3 linked regions of the Homo sapiens genome follow. The protein of the gene in region 1 purifies or fractionates together with the protein of each later gene. This does not show direct contact. Each region holds a gene or a part of one and is shown in the gene's direction. Other genes may lie near its edges. The genes, in order: RASD2, LRP6 and LRP5.

Region 1 (3,651 bases):
GTCGGGGGCCCCGATTCCATTCTGTTAGACTCCAGATCGATTACTCATGGCTGTCGGGGCCGCCTTCCAGATCAGGAGCTGATACCAGCATGCCCCAGGGATATTCCTTTCTAGGGAACAGAATGATGCCCTGGCTGCTGCTTTCCTTCTCCGGAAGATGACCCACCAGAGCTCCAGGGCCCAAGGTCAGTCCACGGGGCTCAGGTCTCCCACACCCCAGGCCTTTGCCACCTCCTAGAGAGGTAAGGGCAGGACCCAGGCAGTGATCACCAAAGGGAAGGGGGCTTGGTCATGGTCATAGTGATGGTGATGGCACTAGCTGACACTTATCAGAAGCTATGGGCCTGGCCCTGTTCTTAGAGCTTGGCATGTAGTTTTTTTTGAAACAGAGTCTCGCTCTGTCACCCAGGCTGGAGTGCAGTGGCGCGATCTCGGCTCACTGCAACCTCTGCCTCCCGGGTTCAAGCGATTCTCCTGCCTCAGTCCCCCAAGTAGCTGGGACTACAGGCATGTGCCACCATGCCCGGCTAATTTTTTGTATTTTTACTAGAGACGGGATTTCACCATGTTAGCCAGGATGGTCTCGATCTCCTGACCTCGTGATCTGCCTACCTCAGCCTCCCAAAGTGCTGAGATTACAGGCGTCAGCCACCGCGGCCAGCCAGCATGTAGTTATTTAACCCTCATAGTAAATAGTTATTCATTCCCTTTTTACAAGTGGGGAAACTGAAGCCCAGAGAGGTTAAGTAACTCACTCCAGTGGTAGCACAGCTCGTAAAGGCAGTCTGCTTTTGTGCTTTCAGACAAAGCCATACCACAGCCTCTCAGCCCTGCTGGGAAGGGTGAGGAGGGACAGGGAGGTTGGGGGGAAGAAGGGGTGAGTGGAGCTGAGGGGCTGTGCCCTTGTTTACACTGCATTAGCATGGTAGCTAAGAGGACAAGCCCGGGACCCAGCACCTGGGTGTGAGCCCTGGTTCCGCTGCTTCCTGGCTTTGTACCTCGAGGCAAGGGATTTTATCTCCTTGTGTCTCAGCACTCTCATCTGTAAGACTGCACCACATCAACACTCATCCTAAAGGGACTGTGAGACTTAAATGAATGAATATATGTAAGGCGCTTGGTGAGCAGATAGTAAATGCACAATAAATCCCCAAGTCTTCTGTTGAGTCAGCATTTGCAAGTGGGCCTGCTACGGGTTACACGATCATTTCCCAAGTCACGCCCCTGAAGTTGCTGAGCAGGGATAAGGGAAGGAGTGAGCAGGCAACTCTCTAGGCATCATTCAGATAACCCCCCAACTGAGGTACTTCTATACAGAGAAACCCATGCCACTCCCAGCCCTGCTGCCGCCTTGAGGCCAAGACTGAGGCTGCGGGGTGGCCCCTCCTTGAGTGCTTTCTCTTCCAGGCTGGCTTTTCCGAGCATCTGACCCAGACAGCAGTCAAGTTCTCCGCTCCACCCCGAGTTTTGGAGAAGGGGCATGTAGATAGGAGAGCCCTGGGTCGACCTGTGTTCGAATCCTTGCTGGGCCTCTTGGCTTAAATGTGTGACCAGAGGCACATGCATCCTGTCTGAGTCTCAGCCTCCCCAGCCACACAGTGGGCTTAACCTCATACCCCGCAGGGAGGCTGTGAGGACTGCAAGAAGGCTTGTGGCGGGAGCTTCCAGCACGTGACGGGTATTGCATTGGTGTCAGCTCCCCCAGCCTTGGGGAGGGGACTGGGTACCCGCTGCAATGAATAAGGCTAATGACAGAGGGAAGGAGAGGGGAGATGTAGAGAGGAAGCACATGCATATTTTCAGCATTAATTTTCAGTGACACAAGTAATACCCAAACACACCCTCCTGCAAACGCTACAGATAAAGCTAATGCCCCTTTGACCCATGTCCCCAATCCCAGGCTCCTGCCCCTGCCCCGGAGGTGGCCACCCTGGCAGTCTGGCATGGAGCCTTCCGGGCCTCCGTGACTACACCGGCATTCGTATTTGTATCCCCACAATGGAGAGTATTTTTGTCTGTCTCTTTTTTATGGCGCATATCATTCTGAGCACAGCTGTCTGATGCTTGTTTTTTTTTCACACACCAACCCGTGCCTCATTTTCCAACCTGGTGGAACCTCATTTTTTCAACCTCATTTTCCTGCTGCTCAGGAAATTCTGAAAGCCATTAATTCCACTGCCAGCTCTTCTTCCAGCTGCCAGACGGGCCGATCTCTGATGCTTGGCATCGCAGTCTCGCATTTGAATATGTCAAGGCCACGAGTCCTCAGGGGCCCCGGATTAGCCTAACGGGATGGGGTTTGGCAGCCCAAGCAGGAAGAGTTGCCAAGCTGACGCTGCCTCGCAAGTGCCTTTCAGAAGAGCCCACACTGCAGTTCCCTCCATCACCTCCCATCCATTCAGGCTTCCTTGGTTAACACTGACTGTGTGCCAGGCCCTGGGGAGACCAGGACGAGTGGGTGATGGAACCCTTCTCTGTGCCCGAGCTGTTTGGAGCACACCTTTGATCTGGACACCATTCTGAATGTGCCATGTGCCATTAAATGGGGGTAAATGATGTGCTCTGGGGGTGCAGAGGAAGGTGGCAGCCATTCTGCCAGAAGCTGGAACTGGTTGCTTCTCTTCTCAAGAATTTGGGCCAATTGCTGATTCCTCTGGGCCTCAGTTTCCTCATCTGTGAGACAGGGATCTTGTCACACCACAAGGCTATCAAGAGTTTGAGCAAAAGTGGTTGGACGCAGTGGCTCATGCCTGTAATCCCAGCTCTTTGGGAGGCCGAGGTGGGCAGATCTCTTGAGGTCAGGAGTTCAAGACCAGCCTGGCTAACACAGTGAAACACCGTCTCTACTAAAAAATACAAAAAATTAGCCAGGTGTGGTGATGGGCACCTGTAATCCCAGTTACTCGGGAGGCTGAGGCAGGAGAATCTCTTGAACCCAGGAGGTGGAGGTTGCAGTGAGCTGAGATCTTGCCATTGCATTCCAGGCTGGGCAACAAGAGTGAAACTCTGTCTCAGAAAATAAATAAATAAATAAATAAAAAATAGCTAGGCATGGTGACAGGCGCCTGTAATCCCAGCTGCTCCAGAGGCTGAGGCAGGAGAATCGCTTAAACCCAGGAGGTGGAAGTTGCAGTGAGCCAAGATCACACCACTGCACTCCAGCCTGGGCCACAGAGAAAGACTCCATCTCAAAAAAAAAAAAAAAAAAAAAAAAGTTTAAGCAAAAGTGAGGAAGGTGCTTATTAAAAGCTGGAAATCAGGATGGAGGTACCAGTCCAGACAGCCTCCCCACCACCCCACCGTCTCCACAGCAGCCCCTGTTTCAGATTCACAAGCCTGCCTTGAGTGATGCAGTGAGTTATCCTGGAGGCAGTGTGGGCCTTGGAGGCCAGCACTCACTTTTTCATCCTATGATTTATTTGAGAAGCAGAGAGCACCTACCGGGTGCCAGGCACGAGCTAGGTGAGAACAGAATCAGGTAGAAATCTCAGCCTAGCCACACGGAAGCTGTGTGATCTTGGGCAGGCTGCATACCCTTTCTGAGCCTCAGTTTGCTCACCTGTAATGCAAAGGTAACAAAATCTTGACAGAGGCATAGTGAGGAATCAAGAGAACAACGGGCCTGGAGCATACACCCAGTGCTTAGCCCCC
Region 2 (3,651 bases), on another chromosome or scaffold:
TTTTAAGTGTCGCTATGTCCTGGGCACTGTTTTTGGCAGTTGATAGTTTTAGGCCAGTGGTTTTGGAATTTTTTTTGATTCTTCTGCAACTGGAATAAAAGCTCCATAAAATACTTTTACTTATGGAAATTTCTGTTTTGTTTGATATAAAACGGAATGACACTAAATTTTTTTTCTTTTTTTTTTTTTTGAGACGGAGTCTTGCTCAGTCGCCCAGGCTGGAGTGCAGTGGCGTAATCTCGGCTCACTGCAAGCTCCGCCCCCCGGGTTCACGCCATTCTCCTGCCTCAGCCTCCCGAGTAGCTGGGACTGCAGGCCCCGCCAACACGCCCGGCTAATTTTTTTTGTATTTTAGTGGAGACGGGGTTTCACCATGTTAGCCAGGTTGGTCTCCATCTCCTGACCTGGTGATCCAGCCGCCTCGGCCTCCCAAAGTGCTGGGATTACAGGCGTGAACCACCGCGCCTGGCCTAAATTTATTTCTAAAGGATTGCAGCCATAACTATTTTAGGTGATGATTATTATAAATAAGCTACAGAACAGACAGTTCAAATGATTGTGATACTTATTAAAGAGTTAAGCATGGGCAAAATAATTTTATCAAGACATCTAATTGAGAAATTGCATTATTTGTTTACAACAATTATTCAGTTGGTGGATTTCTTTCTGCAGGATGGCTGAATGCTATACTGAGTTTCTGCATTGCATGTTTTCACTTCGGATAAGGGTGTTTATCTTCTATAAAGTAAGCCTCACTTCAGTGAATAAAACACTGTTTTATATGAGTAACTTTGAAATTTAGTCAAATATACAGACTAGGCAATCTAAGAACAGGCTGTTTGCTCTTAAAATTATTTATTTTAAAATACAATTTGTCAGTACATAAATGCAAGGAAACAAGGTTATTTGGTATTATTAACATATGCTTTTGTTTCTCAAGCTGTTCGTGTTTGCGGCAGTGAGTATTCTCACTAAAGGTTCAAGCTGTTCGGGTGTGAGGCTAGAAACTTTTAAAATGTGCTTGGACTCTTCGGTGAAAATTATTGATACTTTGATGCTGTGATCCTTTTAGCGGTATCATAACTTGTAGTTTCTGTAATATCTTGCTTGGAAGGACCTTGTATAAGTGCTTAAATATTTTGGAACTAATTTCAGGAGGAGATTGGGGATGCAAAATGAAATTATATTTTTAGGCAGAAAACTACATTAAGTTATGTAAGTTATTAACACCAGGCCTAAAGTTATTGATGAGACTCTCAATAAAAATAACATGACCAGCAGTAGTCTTTTTTTTTTTTTTTTTTTGAGATGGAGTCTCGCTCTGTCACCCAGGCTGGAGTGCCGTGCCATGATCTTGGCTCACTGTGACATCTGCCTCCTGGGTTCAAGTGATTCTCCTGTCTCAGCCTCCCAAGTAGCTGGGATTAGTAGGCGCCCACTATCATGCCTACCTAATTTTTGTGTTTTTAGTAGAGATGGGGTTTCACCATGTTGGCCAGGCTGGTCTCGAACTCCTGACCTCAGGTGGTCCACCCGCTTTGGCCTTCCAAAGTGCTGGGCTTACAGGCGTGAGCCTGCTGCACACAGCTGTCATTTTTTTTTTCCCAAGAAAATAGTCACCCAAATATTGGAAACCTACCTTTATCAAATTATGTATGTTTAACCAGGAGGCTATTTTCTCTAATGGTCTTAGTCATTGTTTTATCACTACAAGACCCAAACTACAAGTAAAGGACTGCAAGGGATAGGAGTCTTCCTCACTAATGATTAGCTTTATTGGTACGTATAATTTAAGTACTGTATATCCATATATCCAGTTTAAAGATACTATGTTTTGCAAGTCTGAGAAAGGTGACGAGTGAACTTCATTACCATGAATTCTTAGCTACACATTATATTGTCTTTATTTGTAACCTTCTAGATTTATGCTAATGCAGAAATAGCTCTTTGATGAAAAGTTTTTGAAGAGTAGACCTTTTTCCCCTTTATATGCACCATGTACCAGAGGTTTGCACATATTGAGCACTGTAAATTTTACATTTAAAGTAATATAAAAAGATGTGAATTTTTATGACATTTATTTGGAATGCCATTTTGTGTTTTGACTCAATCGTTCATTAGCTATAGTTAAATTATAAATTTGTAACGATTACAAAGATTTCTTAGTCTGGGTCATGGTGGCTCACACCTGTAATCCCATCTCTTTAGGAGGCCAAGGCGAGAGGATCACTTGAGGTCAGGAGTTCAAGACCAGCCTGGGAAACATCTATAAAAAATTAAAAAATTATCTGGTCACGATGGCACATGCCTGTAGTTTCAGCTGCTTAGAAGGCTGAGGCAGGAGGATCACTTGAGCCCAGGAACTCAAGGCTACAGTGAGCCATGATCATGCCACTGCACTCCATATCACAGACAAAACCCTGTCTTTCAAAATAAATAAATAAAGATTTCTTAGCATAGATTAGATATGTTAAATAGACTACTAAAAAATCAGCATATTCATATCTGAGATTGAATTCAAGGTGTGGACTATGTAACGTGTTTTCTGGTTTTAGGATATAACTATTGCACTGATATAATTAGTTTTTTTTTTTTTTTTGAGACAGGGTCTCACTGTGTTTCCTAGGCTGGAGTGTGGTGTGATGCTATCATGGCTCACTGCAGCCTGGACCTCCTGGTCTCAGGCGATCCTCCTGCCTCAGCTTCCAGAGTAGCTGGGACTATAGGCACGTGCTACCACGCCCGGCTCATTTTTAATTTTTTTTTTTTTTTTTTTTTTTTTTTTTTTGTAGAGACAGGGTCTTACTATGTTGCTCAGACTGGTCTCGAATTCCTGGGCTCAAGTGATCCTCCTGCCTTGGTTTCCCAAAGTGCTTGCGATTACAGGCATGAGCCACCATGCCTGGCCTCAAGTACTTTTTTCTTTCTTTCTTTTTTTTTTTTCATTAAGCCCTTTCTATCAAGTACTTTTTTTTTTTTTTTTCCTTGAGAGGGAGTCTTGCTCTGTCGCCCAGGCTGGAGTGCAGTGGCGTGATCTCGGCTCACTGCAAGCTCCGCCTCCCAGATTCATGCCATTCTCCCGCCTCAGCTTCCCAAGTAGCTGGGACTACAGGCGCCCACCACCACGCCCAGCTAATTTTTTTTGTATTTTTTTAGTAGAGACGGGGTTTTACCGTGTTAGCCAGGATGGTCTGATCTCCTGACCTCGTGATCCACCCGCCTCGGCCTCCCAAAGTGCTGGGATTACAGGCGTGAGCCACCGCACCCGGCCTGTCAAGTACTTTTTTAAACCAAGTTTTTTGGAGCTATAATTCACATACAGTAAAAATCTCCATTTTACAATGTCTAGTTCGGTGGCTTTTAGTATACTCACAGGGTTGTAAAACATCACCACTATCTCATTCCAGAACGCTTATCATCCCCTGCTCCCTCAAAACCCATACATTTCCCATTTCTCCCTTCCCTCAGCCTCTGGTAACCATGAATTTACTTTCTGTCTCTATGGATTTGCTTACTCTGAATATTTCATATAAATGGAATAAAATATGTGGCCTTTTGTGTCTAGCTTCTATCACTTAGCATTTTCAGGGTTCATTCATGTTGCATGTGTCAGTACTTCATTCCTTTTAATGGCTGAGTAATCCATTGTAT
Region 3 (3,651 bases), on another chromosome or scaffold:
CAGTAACTGAGTGTTCTGGAGGCCCCAGGGCCTGGCTTTGTTTAGGGACAAAGGGAACTGGTAACCAGAAGCCGAGAGTTTAAACACCCACTGCCCTTCTTCCCTGCTCCTGCTGCTGCAACCCAGCTTAACCAGCCAGGAGTGCTAGGAACCCAAGCAGGGCCCCCGAGCACACAGCAGGCAGCTCACGAATTCTCTTTTCCTGTTCTCCCTTGGGAGCTGGGAGGATCTTAATCAGGCAATAAGAGATGGCACTGAGCAGCCAGCTAATTTTTTAAATCACTTTATTGTTTAACCATATGACTCACCCACTTAAAAAAGGGTACAGTTCAGTGGGTTTTAGTGTATTCACAGATGTGTGCAACCCTCACCACAGTTAATTTTAGAACATTTTCCTGCCCCTAAAAGAAACTCTGCATGAAGCCAGCTGTTTTTAAATTAGCAAAGTTATTTTGCATCCTTTAAATATATGTTCATGGTACAAAATTCAAAAGATACAGAAGAGTCTGCAGTCCAAAGAGACTCCGCCCCCATGACGCCAAGCAGGACTCCCTGGGAGGCATGGCCTCCTGCAGTGTGTTTCTTCTATGTCCCCCCAGGGGTCATCTGTACATATGCAAGCATACAAGAGCGTGGACTTTGTTTTCCAAGCCAGAAGATAATTGTAGATTTATGTGCAGTTGTGAGAAAGAGCACAGACCCATTTATCCTCTGCCTGGTTTCCCCCAGTGCTGCCTGCCATCTTGCATGACTTCCATTCCTATCATAAGCAAGACACTGATAACGATTCTTTCACCTTATTCAGATTGACATAAGTGTTTTTTGTTTGTTCTTGAGACAAACTTCCTCTGTCACCCAGTGGGAGTGCAGTGGCACAATCACAGCTCACTGCAGCCTCAAACTCCTGGGCTCAAGCGATTCTCCTGCCTCAGTCCCCTCAAGTAGCTCAGATGGCAGGTGTGCACCATCATGCCAGGCTAATTTTTAAATTTTTTGTGGAGGTGAGGCCTCACTAAATTTCCTGGGCTAGTCTTGAACTCCTGAGCTAAAGTGATCCTCCTGCCTCAGCCTCCCAAAGTGGTAGGATTACAGGCATGAGCCACTGCGCCTGGGCTGACATATGTGTTTTCGTAAGCCCGAAAGATAGCATCTGAAGAGTCAACATTGAGCCTTGCCTTTTGCTGCTAACGATGTATAAAAGCTGCTGTTCTGAGCATTTCGGAGGCTCCCAGCTGCCGTGTGCACCCTGCCTAGAGCTCTACCGTAACCCATCTCCGGGAGGAGGTGCTATTGTTTTCCTCATTTTGCAACAAGGAGGCTGAAGAACTGAGCATGAACCACTGGCCTGGGTCGTTCGGTTGGTAGGCAGTGGGGCCAGGCCATCCAACTCACAACCACCTTCTACTCTGCTTCCCCCGCACCCTGAAGTTTGTTCTGTTTTGAGGACACAGCCGTCACATTCTTGGTGGCTGAACAGCACTCCTTGTCAGGCGTGGCTGGGCCCCCACTGGAGGGCATCATGGTCCTCTCTCCTGCTGCGGTTGAACCTTGGCTGTTTCAACCACTCCTGCCAAGTGGCCCTCTGAAAGGGACAGTCCATCTTTTCTCAGCAGAGGGCCACACTGGCAAAACGGTCCCTGGCACCCTTTCTCTCCACCTGTCTAATATAGAGTAAAAATGGTATCATGTTAAGATCTTCATTTATATTTATTTTATCATGAATGATGTAAGCATCATTTTGTGTGTTTAAGAACCTTTGGGCCCAGCGTGATGGCTTGCAGCTGTAATCTCAGCACTTTAGGAGGCTGAGATGAGCGGATCACTTGAGGCCGGGAGTTTGAGACCAGCCTGGCCAACATGGAGAAACCCCGTCTCTAGTAAAAATTTAAAAATTAGCCGGGTATGGTGATCCCAGCTACTTGGGAGTCTGAAGCATGAGAATTGCTTGAACATGGGAGGCGGAGGTTGCAGTGAGCCGAGATCGCGCCATTGCACTCCAGCCTGGGCGACAGAGCGAGACTCTGTCTCAAAAAAAAAAAAAAAAAAGAAAAGAAAAGAAATTATCAATCTCCTCTTTTATGGCATATATATATATATATATATATATATATATATATATATATATTTTTTTTTTTTTTGGTTATGTTCAGAAAGGCCTTCCCTGCTCTGATCATAAAAAACAACTTATTTTCACACTCTCTCTCTTTTTTTTTTGAGACAGAGTTTTGCTCCTGTTGCCCAGGCTGGAGTGCAGTGGCGCAATCTCAGCTCACTGTAACCTCCGCCTCCCGGGTTGGAGTGATTCTCCTGCCTTACCTTCCCGAGTAGCTGGGATTATAGGCATGCACCACCATGCCTGGCTAATTTTGTACTTTTAGTAGAGACGGGGGTTTCTCCATGTTGGTCAGGCTGGTCTCGAACTCGCGACCTCAGGTGATCCACCCACCTCGGCCTCCCAAAGTGCTGGGATTACAGACGTGAGCCACCATGCCCAGCCCACACTCTCTTTCTTAACGTCCTCCTCCTTTCGTTTTACGTTCACATCTTTAATTCTTCTGGGATGTAATTAGATTTGATGAGCAAGGTGGGCATCCAGCTTGTTTCTTGGCTGATGGCTTATGGGTGGCGTGAATTAGTCGGGGTCTATCAGGAGGCAGAAACTCTATGAGAATTTGAACAGAGAAAGTTCCGTCTACAGGCTTATTACCAGGGACTGGAATAGCAGAAATTGAACAGTGAGATGTACAGAGAACTCTAAGAATGCAGGAATAGGCCAGGCATGGTGGCTCACACCTGTCATCCCAGCACTTTGGGAGACCAAGGCGGGTGGATCACCTGAGGTCAGGAGTTCGAGACCAGCCTGGCCAACATAGTGAAACCCCATCTCTACTAAAAATACAAAAAAATTAGCTGGGTGTGGTGGCGCATGCCTGTAATCCCAGCTTCTCGGGAGTCTGAGGCTGGAGAATCACTTGAACCTGGGAGGCAGAGGTTGTAGTGAGCCGAGATCATGCCATTGTACTCCAGCCTGGGCAACAAGAGCGAGACTCAGTCAAAACAACAACAACGCAGGAATAGCAGATGAGCCGAGTGGCCTCCCCAGCCCCCACCCCCCACCCCCCACCCTGGGCCGAGATCCAGTCCTCTTTGAATAGGGCCTGGCCGTGGTTCACGGGACATCTGAGACATTGCCGAGGCGCTGCACTGGTGGATCTTGCCAGAAGTCTGCCCAGTGCAGATTTGGGCAGAATCTCAAACTGCCTTGGGATGTAGGAGAGAAACCAGGCCTGGTCAAGTTCATGGGAAGAGGTGGAAACAGACCCCATAGGCTGGGGCTTGGGCAGCTGTAGGAAGCCCTCTCTGCTGCCTCCCTGCCTGCTCTCTGCTTTGAAGCATCTTCCCCAGTGCCCCCAGTCTCATGCCCTCTCAACGTTGGGGTCAAATCCTGAGGAATACCCAGACTGGCTCTCTGGGCCAAAGAGGACCCTCTCCAGAAAGAGCAGGGCCCAGTGCGGCTTCCTAAAGGGCAGGGGAAGGGCCTGGCCACTCCCCAGAGGCTACTCACCAGCCATCAGGATAGCCCCAGGAAGCAGGCCTTCTCGAGCCCATTTTATTACTTTATTTTATTATTTTATTTAATTTTAAATTTAT

What was found.
Region 2: the proteins of RASD2 (region 1) and LRP6 purify together in Homo sapiens (affinity purification with mass spectrometry; 3 studies listed by BioGRID and IntAct, with this or other methods). This does not show direct contact.
Region 3: the proteins of RASD2 (region 1) and LRP5 purify together in Homo sapiens (affinity purification with mass spectrometry; 3 studies listed by BioGRID and IntAct, with this or other methods). This does not show direct contact.

Annotation. Positions count from the first base shown.
Region 1 is NC_000022.11:35,547,251-35,550,901, forward strand, and holds part of RASD2 (GTP-binding protein Rhes precursor), read left to right. Parts: intron 1-3,651. UniProt on the Homo sapiens protein: GTPase signaling protein that binds to and hydrolyzes GTP. Regulates signaling pathways involving G-proteins-coupled receptor and heterotrimeric proteins such as GNB1, GNB2 and GNB3.
Region 2 is NC_000012.12:12,256,917-12,260,567, reverse strand, and holds part of LRP6 (low-density lipoprotein receptor-related protein 6 isoform b precursor), read left to right. Parts: intron 1-3,651. UniProt on the Homo sapiens protein: Component of the Wnt-Fzd-LRP5-LRP6 complex that triggers beta-catenin signaling through inducing aggregation of receptor-ligand complexes into ribosome-sized signalosomes.
Region 3 is NC_000011.10:68,441,462-68,445,112, forward strand, and holds part of LRP5 (low-density lipoprotein receptor-related protein 5 isoform 1 precursor), read left to right. Parts: intron 1-3,651. UniProt on the Homo sapiens protein: Acts as a coreceptor with members of the frizzled family of seven-transmembrane spanning receptors to transduce signal by Wnt proteins.